Linked DNA regions of Homo sapiens. The protein of the gene in region 1 interacts with the protein of each later gene in a pairwise test. Each region holds a gene or a part of one and is shown in the gene's direction. Other genes may lie near its edges. The genes, in order: ARHGAP32, NPHP1 and DZIP3.

Region 1 (3,753 bases):
TTTCAGCAGGGTGTGTTGTTATCTTTGAGTCAGACACAACAATTACTTTTAAGCCCTGTGGCTGGTTTCCATGAGATAGTTCCCATTTGAGGTTGGAGTCTGCCATTACCTTGATGCTGGCTTTTCCCCAGGAAAGGAGTAGCTCCTAGATGACTATAGCTTAACTGTACCTGCTCCCTTTTCTTCCTAAAGTGTCTCGGTAGTTTATTCCAGTAACACAAAGAGATCAGGATCAAATGAGACAAAGTGGGCTTTACGGTTGTGGGTTGCTTTTTCTTATTTTTTTCCAACTCCATCACTGACTCATTGTGACTTTGGGCAAGTCATTTACCTACCCTCTGCCAATTATTCACAGTTACACAATGAAAATACTTCATTCTCAAAACATTCGTAAGACTGTCTGCCTTGCAGACTTTTTGGAAGTATAAGAGATTATAGTGCCTTGGGATTTTTTGTTACTTTCCTAGCATTCACCAGCAGTTTGTCCCATAGTCAGGTGCCTGTTTCAATGAGAGAATGTAGTATGCAGAATGCTAAGGTTTCTTCCTGAATTTCCTCATATTTTAAGAAAGTGCCACAGGTTGTTTTTCTTCTATATGGTCACCTTGAACTATTAATAGGACTTAAGATTTTAGACCTTAGTGGAGGATGCTGTGTTTACTGCTTCTCAAGGATAGCATGTTTTCAGTATGAGGATTATCTTTGGCCAGACTAAGGTGGAATCAAAGGTAGGAGAGAGGCAGTAGCTTCTGATTTGAATATTGCCTTTCCCTATGTTTGAAGCCCTAAAACTGCTAACTGTGTACAACTGTGAATTTCAAAAGTCTCCCCAGATGATAGAATTAACTCTTAATTTAACAAGATGTCCTTTGTGTTGAGACTGAGCTAGACTAATAGACCGGGTATGTATTTTTAAGCTCTACAGCATTACTTGACTAAACCTCTCTTTTGGTTTGTATATTAAAATTATGCCATAGGCAACCTCATCTCGCATTTAAAACCTCTCATAAATTAGAAAACTTTGAATGGTTCTCCAAAGATAATACTGGGTGTTGTACAAAATAGCAGCACAAGCCTTCTTTTCCTAGAAATGGGTACAGATTCATTGCAACCACATGGCTTGGGAAAGTTCAAGCTGCTACCCAACCAGCCTTAATTTGTGAGTTACAAATTTAATAGTACTTGATTCATAGAGGGAACAAAAAATAGACCCATAGTATTATCATCTTTCAATAGGTTCAAGGAGTAGTTCCAGTTCCAGAGAGGCCACCTGAACCTCGAGCCATGGATGACCCTGCGTCTGCCTTCATCAGTGACAGTGGTGCTGCTGCTGCTCAGTGTCCCATGGCTACAGCTGTCCAGCCAGGCCTGCCTGAGAAAGTGCGGGACGGTGCCCGGGTCCCGCTGCTGCACCTGCGCGCCGAGTCTGTCCCTGCGCATCCCTGTGGCTTTCCTGCACCACTGCCCCCCACCAGGATGATGGAGAGTAAGATGATTGCTGCCATACACTCCAGCAGTGCAGATGCCACCAGCAGTTCAAATTATCATTCCTTTGTCACTGCTTCATCCACCTCTGTGGACGATGCATTGCCTTTACCACTTCCTGTCCCACAACCTAAGCATGCTTCTCAGAAAACAGTTTACTCCTCCTTTGCTAGGCCCGATGTCACCACTGAACCCTTTGGTCCAGATAACTGTTTGCATTTCAATATGACTCCAAACTGCCAGTACCGTCCCCAGAGTGTACCTCCCCATCACAATAAATTGGAGCAGCACCAAGTGTATGGTGCCAGGTCAGAGCCACCAGCCTCCATGGGTCTTCGTTATAACACATATGTGGCCCCAGGAAGAAACGCATCTGGACACCACTCCAAGCCATGCAGCCGGGTCGAGTATGTGTCTTCTTTGAGCTCCTCTGTCAGGAATACCTGTTACCCCGAAGACATTCCACCGTACCCTACCATCCGGAGAGTGCAGTCTCTCCATGCTCCGCCGTCTTCCATGATTCGCTCTGTTCCCATTTCACGGACAGAAGTTCCCCCAGATGATGAGCCAGCCTACTGCCCAAGACCTCTGTACCAATATAAGCCATATCAGTCCTCCCAGGCCCGCTCAGATTATCATGTCACTCAGCTTCAGCCTTACTTTGAGAATGGCCGGGTCCACTACAGGTATAGCCCATATTCCAGTTCTTCTAGTTCCTATTACAGTCCAGATGGGGCCCTGTGTGATGTGGATGCCTATGGCACAGTCCAGTTGAGACCCCTTCACCGCCTTCCCAATCGAGACTTTGCTTTCTACAATCCTAGGCTGCAAGGAAAGAGCTTGTACAGTTATGCTGGTTTGGCTCCACGTCCCCGGGCCAACGTGACTGGCTATTTCTCTCCCAACGACCATAATGTAGTCAGCATGCCTCCGGCTGCTGATGTGAAGCACACCTACACCTCATGGGATCTTGAGGACATGGAAAAATACCGCATGCAGTCCATCCGGAGAGAGAGCCGTGCTCGGCAGAAGGTGAAAGGGCCTGTCATGTCCCAATATGATAACATGACCCCGGCGGTGCAGGACGACTTGGGTGGGATCTATGTCATCCATCTGCGTAGTAAATCAGATCCTGGGAAAACTGGACTTCTCTCAGTGGCAGAAGGAAAGGAGAGCCGCCATGCAGCCAAGGCCATCAGTCCCGAGGGAGAGGACCGCTTCTATAGGAGGCATCCCGAGGCAGAGATGGACAGAGCCCACCATCACGGAGGCCATGGTAGCACGCAGCCGGAGAAGCCATCCCTGCCTCAGAAGCAGAGCAGCCTGAGGAGCAGGAAGCTTCCTGACATGGGCTGCAGTCTTCCTGAGCACAGGGCACACCAAGAAGCAAGCCATAGGCAGTTCTGTGAGTCAAAGAATGGGCCCCCTTATCCCCAGGGAGCTGGCCAGTTAGATTATGGGTCCAAAGGGATTCCAGACACTTCTGAGCCAGTCAGCTACCACAACTCTGGAGTAAAATATGCTGCATCCGGGCAAGAATCTTTAAGACTGAACCACAAAGAGGTAAGGCTCTCCAAAGAGATGGAGCGACCCTGGGTTAGGCAGCCTTCTGCCCCAGAGAAACACTCCAGAGACTGCTACAAGGAGGAAGAACACCTCACTCAGTCAATCGTCCCACCCCCTAAACCAGAGAGGAGTCATAGCCTCAAACTCCATCATACCCAGAACGTGGAGAGGGACCCCAGTGTGCTGTACCAGTACCAACCACACGGCAAGCGCCAGAGCAGTGTGACTGTTGTGTCCCAGTATGATAACCTGGAAGATTACCACTCCCTGCCTCAGCACCAGCGAGGAGTCTTTGGAGGGGGCGGCATGGGGACGTATGTGCCCCCTGGCTTTCCCCATCCACAGAGCAGGACCTATGCTACAGCGTTGGGTCAAGGGGCCTTCCTGCCCGCAGAGTTGTCCTTGCAGCATCCTGAAACACAGATCCATGCAGAATGAGCCCTGCGAGCAATAGAGTTGAAGCAGCCTCTGCTGGACAGTGGACTGTTCTATTTTTTTCAATAACCAAAAAGATTAAACAAAAAATACTATAAAACCCCTGACCACATTTAAAAAATGATAATAAAAGTAAACAAATCAGCATCTTTTTCCCCTTCCCTGCTTCATTACCCCCTCTTCCATCTATAGACTTTGTCATTTTTGTCTTTAGAAAAGATCTGAAGGATGGTAAAGCCCCGTGCTGAAACCCAGTAGAGAAACCTG
Region 2 (3,753 bases), on another chromosome or scaffold:
ATACAATGGATACCACTCAGTAATGAGAAGGAATGAACTAATGGTACACACAACAATATGGAAGTATCTCAAAAACATGCTTTGTGGAAAGGTTACACAAGAGTGCTTACTGTATGAGTCCATTTATATAAAATTTCAAGAACAGGCAAAACTAATTTATGTTGGAAAAATATCAAAACAGGTTTGTCTGTGGAGGAATAAGGAGGGGATTTACTGGCAAGGGCATGAGGGAACTTACTAGGGTGATGGTAGTTTTCTACATCTTGATAAGAATTTTGGTTACACAGATGTATGCATTTGTCGAAACTCAGCAAATGTATGCCTCGTATTTGTGCATTTCACTATATACATATTTTACATCAACTATTGAACTTTAGTTAGTGACATCCATAGTCCATTATTTAGGGAGAAATGTATTGATAACTGCAACTTACTTTGAAAGGCATAAGGTGGGTTGACGGATAGATCAAATAAGTATAGTATAATGTTAATGTTTTTTCTAGGTAGCGGGTATATGGGTTTTCACTGTAAAATTTTTAAAACTTTGTTGTATGTTTAAAAGTGTTCATTATAAAATATTGGATAAAAAAAGAAGTTTTCTTTCCTAAGGCGATATGGTATTTAATAATGTGATATTTTAAATGGTCTCCATAGGTTGATAGTTTGCTTTCTGAGAGCCAACTGAAAGAAGCTCTAGAACCCAATAAAAGACAACATATTTATCAAAGGTAAAGTATGCTAAATTATATAAGCTTTACAGGAACCGCACTTACATTTCAATGCATAGTATTTAAGGCATAGAGATTGGTCCTTTGGAATCAAATGGAAGAATCACATAGTGTTGTAAGTTGAATGTAGAAGAAACCAACCTAAACCTGATGGTTGCGGACTTGCTGTTGTGACAGCAACTATAAAAACTGCTTAATGTAAACATAGGTGACATGGGCAGGATTACCCTAAATCCTTAGCCTATGTAGCCCAGATCCTGTGACCTGGTCAGAAACCTCTGTCTATAAGCAATTAGTACTTCATTGGGATGTCAACTTTAACTCCCATGAGAAGACAACACTGTTTTCTAGGTGGGTGTTTTTTGTTTTGTATTTGTTTTTACTTAAAAAAAAATCCTTGGGAGAGTTTAAATAGACGTGATGAACTACATCAAATTTAGACTATTAATTCATAACATTTGTATTAAGTTTAGGACATCATTAAGATAATCTTTGTTTTTGAGATATTTAAGGATTTTATTACATTCCAAAGAACATGAGATTCATTCTATTAATTTAAGTGAATTGTAATTGTTTGGAGAAGTTTTACTTAAGTCAGGCATTCAGAGTGCTTAAAGGCAAAACAAATGAATTTTGAAATGTCAAATGAATTTAATTTATAATAGTAGGATTGATTAAGGGATTTAGTTCAAGCTGAATTAACAGTAATGAAAGAAAAGCAAAGGTTATTGTTCTTGCTTTACTAGATTTAAAAACAGAGTAAGATTTATAGACTGAATTTGAAGGCCAAGGGAAAACTACGTTTTTAAATTTTATGTTAGTAAACTAAAAATCATAATTATTATTATTTTATTTTTTGAGACTAAATCTCACTCTGTCACCCAGGCTGGAGTGCAGTGGCGCAATCTCGGCTCATTGCAACCTGCACCTCCCAGGTTCAAGCGATTCTTCTGCCTCAGGCTCTTGAGTAGTTGGGATTACAGTCGTGCCCCACCACACCTGGCTGGATTTTGTATTTTGAGTAGAGATGGGTTTCATCACGTTGGCCAGGCTGGTTTCGAACTCCTGACCTCAAGGGATCCCCCAGCCTTGGCCTCCCAAAGTGCTGGGATTATAGGTGTGAGCCACTGTGCCCAGCCTAATAATTGTTATGTTTTATTTTTTTTGAGATAGAGTCTCTCTCTGTCGCCCAGGCTGGAGTGCAGTGGCATGATCTCGGCTCACTGCAAGCTCCACCTCCCAGGTTCAAGCGATTCTCCTGCCTCAGCCTCCCGAGTAGCTGGGATTACAGGTGCCCGCCACCATGCCTGGCTAATTTTTTGTATTTTTAGTAGAGATGGGGTTTCACCGTGCTAGCCAGGATGGTCTCAATCTCCTGACCTCATGCCCCCTGCTTTGGCCTCCCAAAGTGCTGGGATTATAGGCGTGAGCCACCGCGCCCGGCCCCTAATAATTATTTTTAAGCCCAAGTAACCATAGTCTTCTCTGTGCATGAAAAGAAGATTGTTACTGTCATTTAAAAACTCACTTTGACATTTGCATATCTGAAAATGTCATTTAGGTATCATTTTTATCTGCTCAGTGCTCTGAGTCTTTTCAGTTTGAAAACTCATGTCTCATGAGCTCTGGGAGATTTTATTTTACAAAAAGATTATTTCGTTAATTCCATTTGTCTGTTTCTTCCTGAAACACCTTTGAGTCAGGTATTGGATATCCTGGACTGATCCTCTATATCCCATAACTTCCTGTTAATAGTTTCTGTTTCTTTGTTTGTATGGGAGATGTTTTTTTGGGGGGATGTGGGGGGTCTCACTCTGTCGTTCAGGCTGTAATGAAGTGGCACAATCATGGCTCACTGCACCTTCTGCCTCCCAGGCTCAAGGGATGCCCCCCTCCCCCGCCACGAGCTACCATGCTAGCAATTCTCTTGACTTTAACACTTTTCTTTATTACCTATTTCAACAGCCATATTGTTTTATTTCAGCAGTCATATTGGTTTTTTTTTTTTTAAGATGGAGTCTCACTCTGTCATGATCTTGGCTCACTGCAACCTCTGCCTCCTGGGTTCAAGCGATTCTCCTGCCTTAGCCTTCTGAGTAGCTGGGATTACAGGCTCACGCCATCACACTCGGCTAATTTTTTGTATTTTTAGTAGAGACGGAGTTTCACCATGTTGGCCAGGCTGCTCTCAAACTCCCGACTTCAGGTGATCCACCCATCATGGCCTCCCAAAGTGCTGGGATTACGTGAGCCACCGTGCCTGGCCATCATCAGTCATGTTGTTAATTTACAAGTGTTTTCTCTTGTTCTCGAATTGTTCTTTTTTCATAGCATCATGTTCCTGTTTTCATATTGATTGCCTTCTTACTACTTCCATGACTAGGAGGCTTTTTTTTTCTCCTTAAGTTCTCTTCTGTTCTCTGAATTGTCTTTGCTTTCTCTGGGCTCAGATTCCTTTTAATTAGTTAATTAATTAATTTATATTTGGTTATTCTTAAATTTTATCTTCACGTTGCCGGTTTTCTTTATTAGGTCTGGCTTATCTATTTTTATTGAACAATGAGGGACTAGGTTGATTATTCCAGAGAGCTCTCATGGGCTTTTCTACTGTTAGATAGAGAGGGGTCCTTCCTGCTAGTACCATCCCCTGAATAAGAATGAAATTTTGTATGTTGATAGGGCTTATCAGAGGCTCGGAAGTAGCTTTTAGTCTGAGGATCCCCCAGTGCCAGAATAGGGCCGGCTCTAACCCTGGTGTATGGGAAACTTCTTTAGCAGTCATGATTCTCTTCAGGTCGTTTGTTAATTGTTTTTGTTTGTTTTTTTGTTTTTAGGGAAGAATCCCCTGGTAAGGAGGGAGAGCAGAGAGGGGAAAAGGGAGCTAACTGGCTCAGGTTTTCTGTAAATAGACTTTTAAAAGAAAGAACCCCAACTAAATCTAAACGTAATCAGTATCATTAATCTTCCCTTGACTAATATAAAGACCTTAGATTGCTTTAACATTGATTTCCCTCCTCAAAGCTTA
Region 3 (3,753 bases), on another chromosome or scaffold:
CCATGGTTGCAGCAATTGGTTTGACGATCCACAGCGTAAGGCTTTAAAGATCCACCAGAAGACATGTTGGTTGGTAACCCTGATGCATAGAGTGACAACTGCCTCTGCTAGGCTACATCTGAGAGACTGACATAAATCTTTTTGCTCCTTAGTGCATTAGACCATGGTTGATGCAACAGGGGACATGTCCAACGTGCAGACTCCACGTTTTGCTACCAGAAGAATTCCCTGGTCACCCCAGCCGGCAGTTGCCCAAGATCTGATACAAGGTCGGGGTGTCTATGCAAAGGAAGCTCAGTTTTCTTTTATTATGAGCTGCTTGTTTGAGTGGTGTAAAACTATGTGCTCTTCAATATAGTGCTAAAGAAGCCAGCTAATTTTATCAAAGCAGCAGCCAAAGAAGTCAGGACAAATCTTCAGGACTTGTGAAATGAACTGAAAGAGCTTGAAGCAGATGGAATTTTAATAGTTACACTATATATGCTCTTAGTAGGTTTTTTTCTTGTAGTGGAAACATAACTGTTAGCATATTTCTTAGGATGTTTTTTCTTGTCTTTTTAAATTCTTATTTCACTCATCCTTTACTCTCCCCTCAAGTATTCTACACTTTAATTTCCTGAAATAAATTTAAGGAAAAGGGAAATAGTAAAGAAGTAGGAATGGGTGCAGCACACCAGCATGGCACATGAATACACATGTAACTAACCTGCACATTGTGCACATGTACCCTAAAACTTAAAGTATAATAATAATAAAAGAAAAAAAAAAGAAAGTAAAAAAAAAAAAAGAAGTGGATATTCACGGAGAGCTATGAGGGGATAAAAGGGTATGATCTAATGGTAAGAAACTGGAAGAAACATAGCAAGTCATTTGTTCAGATTCTTCTCTGTGTCCCTGTGTCTCCAGAGATAAGGATGTCCTTTTCCTCCAGGTATACAGTGGGTACCTCTAGAATGAGGGTCTTATGACCTGCTTCCAGGGAAGGTCAGAGAATCCTTCCTAGGTTTTATGACTTGTTTCTGGGAAGAAGTGCAGGAGGAAAGTGAGTGAGACTTCCCTGCTTCTGCTGTTTTCTCAAACATCAAGATGCCATATTTTGGAGTAGCATGTCTTAAATCTCATCACCCGTCTCAGGTGCAGTTTCATGGCCATGAAGAAGACAGAAAGACCACTCATACCTGCATAAGTATTATCACAAACTTTCTTATCTTCTGTTTGTTCTCCTGAAAACCCATTTGTCTTTCCTAAACGAACCAATTTGTCCTTCCCATAGATGTCTTTCTCCCCCATTCCTTTCCCCTACTAAGTTAGGTATATAAGCCCCAAATTCTAACCACACTTTTCAGTTACTCTTCACGGAACACTCCCACATGTGCGAACATTGTCCGCATAAATAAGCTCTTTTCTCTTACTAATGTCTTTTTTTCAGTTTAATTTGCAGGCTCCTATTGAAATAACAAAAGTTGGTAGAGGAAAAAGTTTTTTCTCCCCTACAAAGGCCAAGAACATTTTGGCTTTATATTTATATTTATATTATAATGTGAATTGATTATAATTATAATGTGAATTGATAGAAATATATATATTTTTTTTCTGCCCCTGCTTGGCACATGACAGAACATGGGCATAGACAGACTGGCTATTGGTAATCCAGTCCTGGGAGATGATCAGGAGGCAGTACTCAATCCTACTTTCTTCTCTACAGCTTCCCATGGGCTAAAGAATTTACATGTCTGCCCACAGCAAATGTACTCAGGCTTCTACACTAACATAAGCCCACGGAAATGAAACAGAAAGGGACAGTTCATATGTTTCTGAATAGATCCAGTTGAATAGTCTCATTCAATTTGAGACTGTTGAACAACTGTTGTTGTTCTACATACATTTAAAGTCAGGGCACATGCGTCACTGCTTATTTTTCTTACTTGACATATTCCCTGCATTTCCATGTCTGCCTGTCCTTTAGATAAACAGTAAAAGTTTCCCATGTGCCAGTATTTCTCAAATGGTTTACATCAGAATCACCTGGAGGACTTTTAAGCTAGATTGTTTGGTCCCATCCCAGGGATTCTGAATCAACAGGTTTGCGATGGGTCCAGATAGTTTACTTTTCCAAGTTTACTAACAAGTTTGCCAAGTTCCCCCAGTTTATTACCATTAGACCATACCTTTTTGTCCAATCATTTAAAACAAATTTTTATATAATAAGTTTTATTTGTATGTAATAAATTTTATTATATAAAAATAAGTTTTAATATATATTATATAAAAAGTTTTAATAAATACCTAATATATTATTTAATATGATAAAACTTATATTAAATGAAATTTTATGCTGTTCTCTTGTCAATCTGTCTTTTGTTATCTTGCTGGTGTGCCTGTCATGTGAGGGACTGCAATCTGATATGCCTGTTTTCCACAGTCAAAGCAATTACAAGAGAATTGTTACAATTACCCAGTTATGTCAAGAGATTTTTTTTTAATTCACTAAGGTAGAGATAAGGAGAATGTATTAAAATAGGATATTTTAATTATAAATGCATGACTGGGGAGGGGGTATTGTTTTTGAATAAAATATGAGGTTATTTGCCATGACAAAAAAAAAAAGAAGTAGGAAAATCCCATGGAAATTTATGTTCCTTCTAACTTTTAAAACTACCTAAAAAATATAATTGATTTAAATTATATCTCAATATTCCCCATTCTTTTATATCCCCTTAAATAGGTACCCATGAAGAGATTATGAACTACTTGAAGGTGGAGACTGTACGGTGGTGTGTTGGAGCTGGCTTGTAATGTCTTATGAGTGACAATCGTTAGTTTGAGGAATTTTGTGAGACAGTTGTCAAATTGTTGCTAGCTTGAAATCTGCGGCAATTGGAGTATTTACACCATAGAAATGCTATAAGTGAAGACCTACCTTTCCCTTAAGAGCTAGTTGTTAAACCTTTACCAGCATACCACTGGACCTTGTCTAAAATTTCTTTGTGTTCCCAGTGTCTTGCCCAGTAGATACAAGATAAATATTGCCAGAATCAGATATCAGGAAGTAGTAAGAAAAGGAGTTAATATGCAAACTAAATCACTCGCTCAATTGAATAATTGAGATCTTCTGTTCATTTGTTCCTTGGACCTTAATCATTTGCATTTTGGAGAAAATTTTTTCTGCTTTAAAAGTCTGTAATTTCAGTTTTTGTGTCGGGGAGAGGGAAAAACTATTTGTCTGTAGTTGCTTTTTGTGACAAAGTGAATACCCACTGGGCTAAGTTTCATATCTAAAGCTTGTCACTAAGAATTTTCATTTTTAGGGGTCAAAAACCTATTTTGAAAATAGTGTTGTGTGAATGCTGTAAGTGTTGTACATGTCTCTGGTTTCAGAATTAAAAGAATTCAGAGTTACCTTGTGAGATAAATGTTCTTTGCTTCATATTCACAGTTTCACCTCCATTTAAATTTATGGGGAAGAATAAATGTTTCCTGACTCAGAAACAATTTTGCCTCCATATTTCAGTGCAAATATATTTTGAAGTTACTTTTAAATATTTATTTAAAACCTCTGTTTCTGTAACTGTATGTTAAACGTATTCTTCTGTAATGAGAATAGACTGGAACATGTGAGGGAAAAATATTTAAAAAAAGATGGCAGTCATCTAGACATGTAAAATGCCAAGAATGTCTTAGAATTGCACAATTTAGAATTTATAGAGCCTTTAATCACCTTGTCTAGCACCTTGTATTAGTCCATTTTCATGC

The links.
Region 2: the proteins of ARHGAP32 (region 1) and NPHP1 interact in a two-hybrid assay, tested with the Homo sapiens proteins (one study listed by BioGRID).
Region 3: the proteins of ARHGAP32 (region 1) and DZIP3 interact in binary tests that used the Homo sapiens proteins (3 or more experiments, as listed by UniProt).

What each region holds. Positions count from the first base shown.
Region 1 is NC_000011.10:128,968,643-128,972,395, reverse strand, and holds part of ARHGAP32 (rho GTPase-activating protein 32), read left to right. Parts: intron 1-1,236; coding exon 1,237-3,489; 3' UTR 3,490-3,753. UniProt on the Homo sapiens protein: GTPase-activating protein (GAP) promoting GTP hydrolysis on RHOA, CDC42 and RAC1 small GTPases. May be involved in the differentiation of neuronal cells during the formation of neurite extensions.
Region 2 is NC_000002.12:110,198,396-110,202,148, reverse strand, and holds part of NPHP1 (nephrocystin-1), read left to right. Parts: intron 1-654; coding exon 655-728; intron 729-3,753. UniProt on the Homo sapiens protein: Together with BCAR1 it may play a role in the control of epithelial cell polarity. Involved in the organization of apical junctions in kidney cells together with NPHP4 and RPGRIP1L/NPHP8. Does not seem to be strictly required for ciliogenesis.
Region 3 is NC_000003.12:108,690,635-108,694,387, forward strand, and holds part of DZIP3 (E3 ubiquitin-protein ligase DZIP3), read left to right. Parts: intron 1-152; coding exon 153-263; 3' UTR 264-269; intron 270-2,725; 3' UTR 2,726-3,753. UniProt on the Homo sapiens protein: E3 Ubiquitin ligase proteins mediate ubiquitination and subsequent proteasomal degradation of target proteins.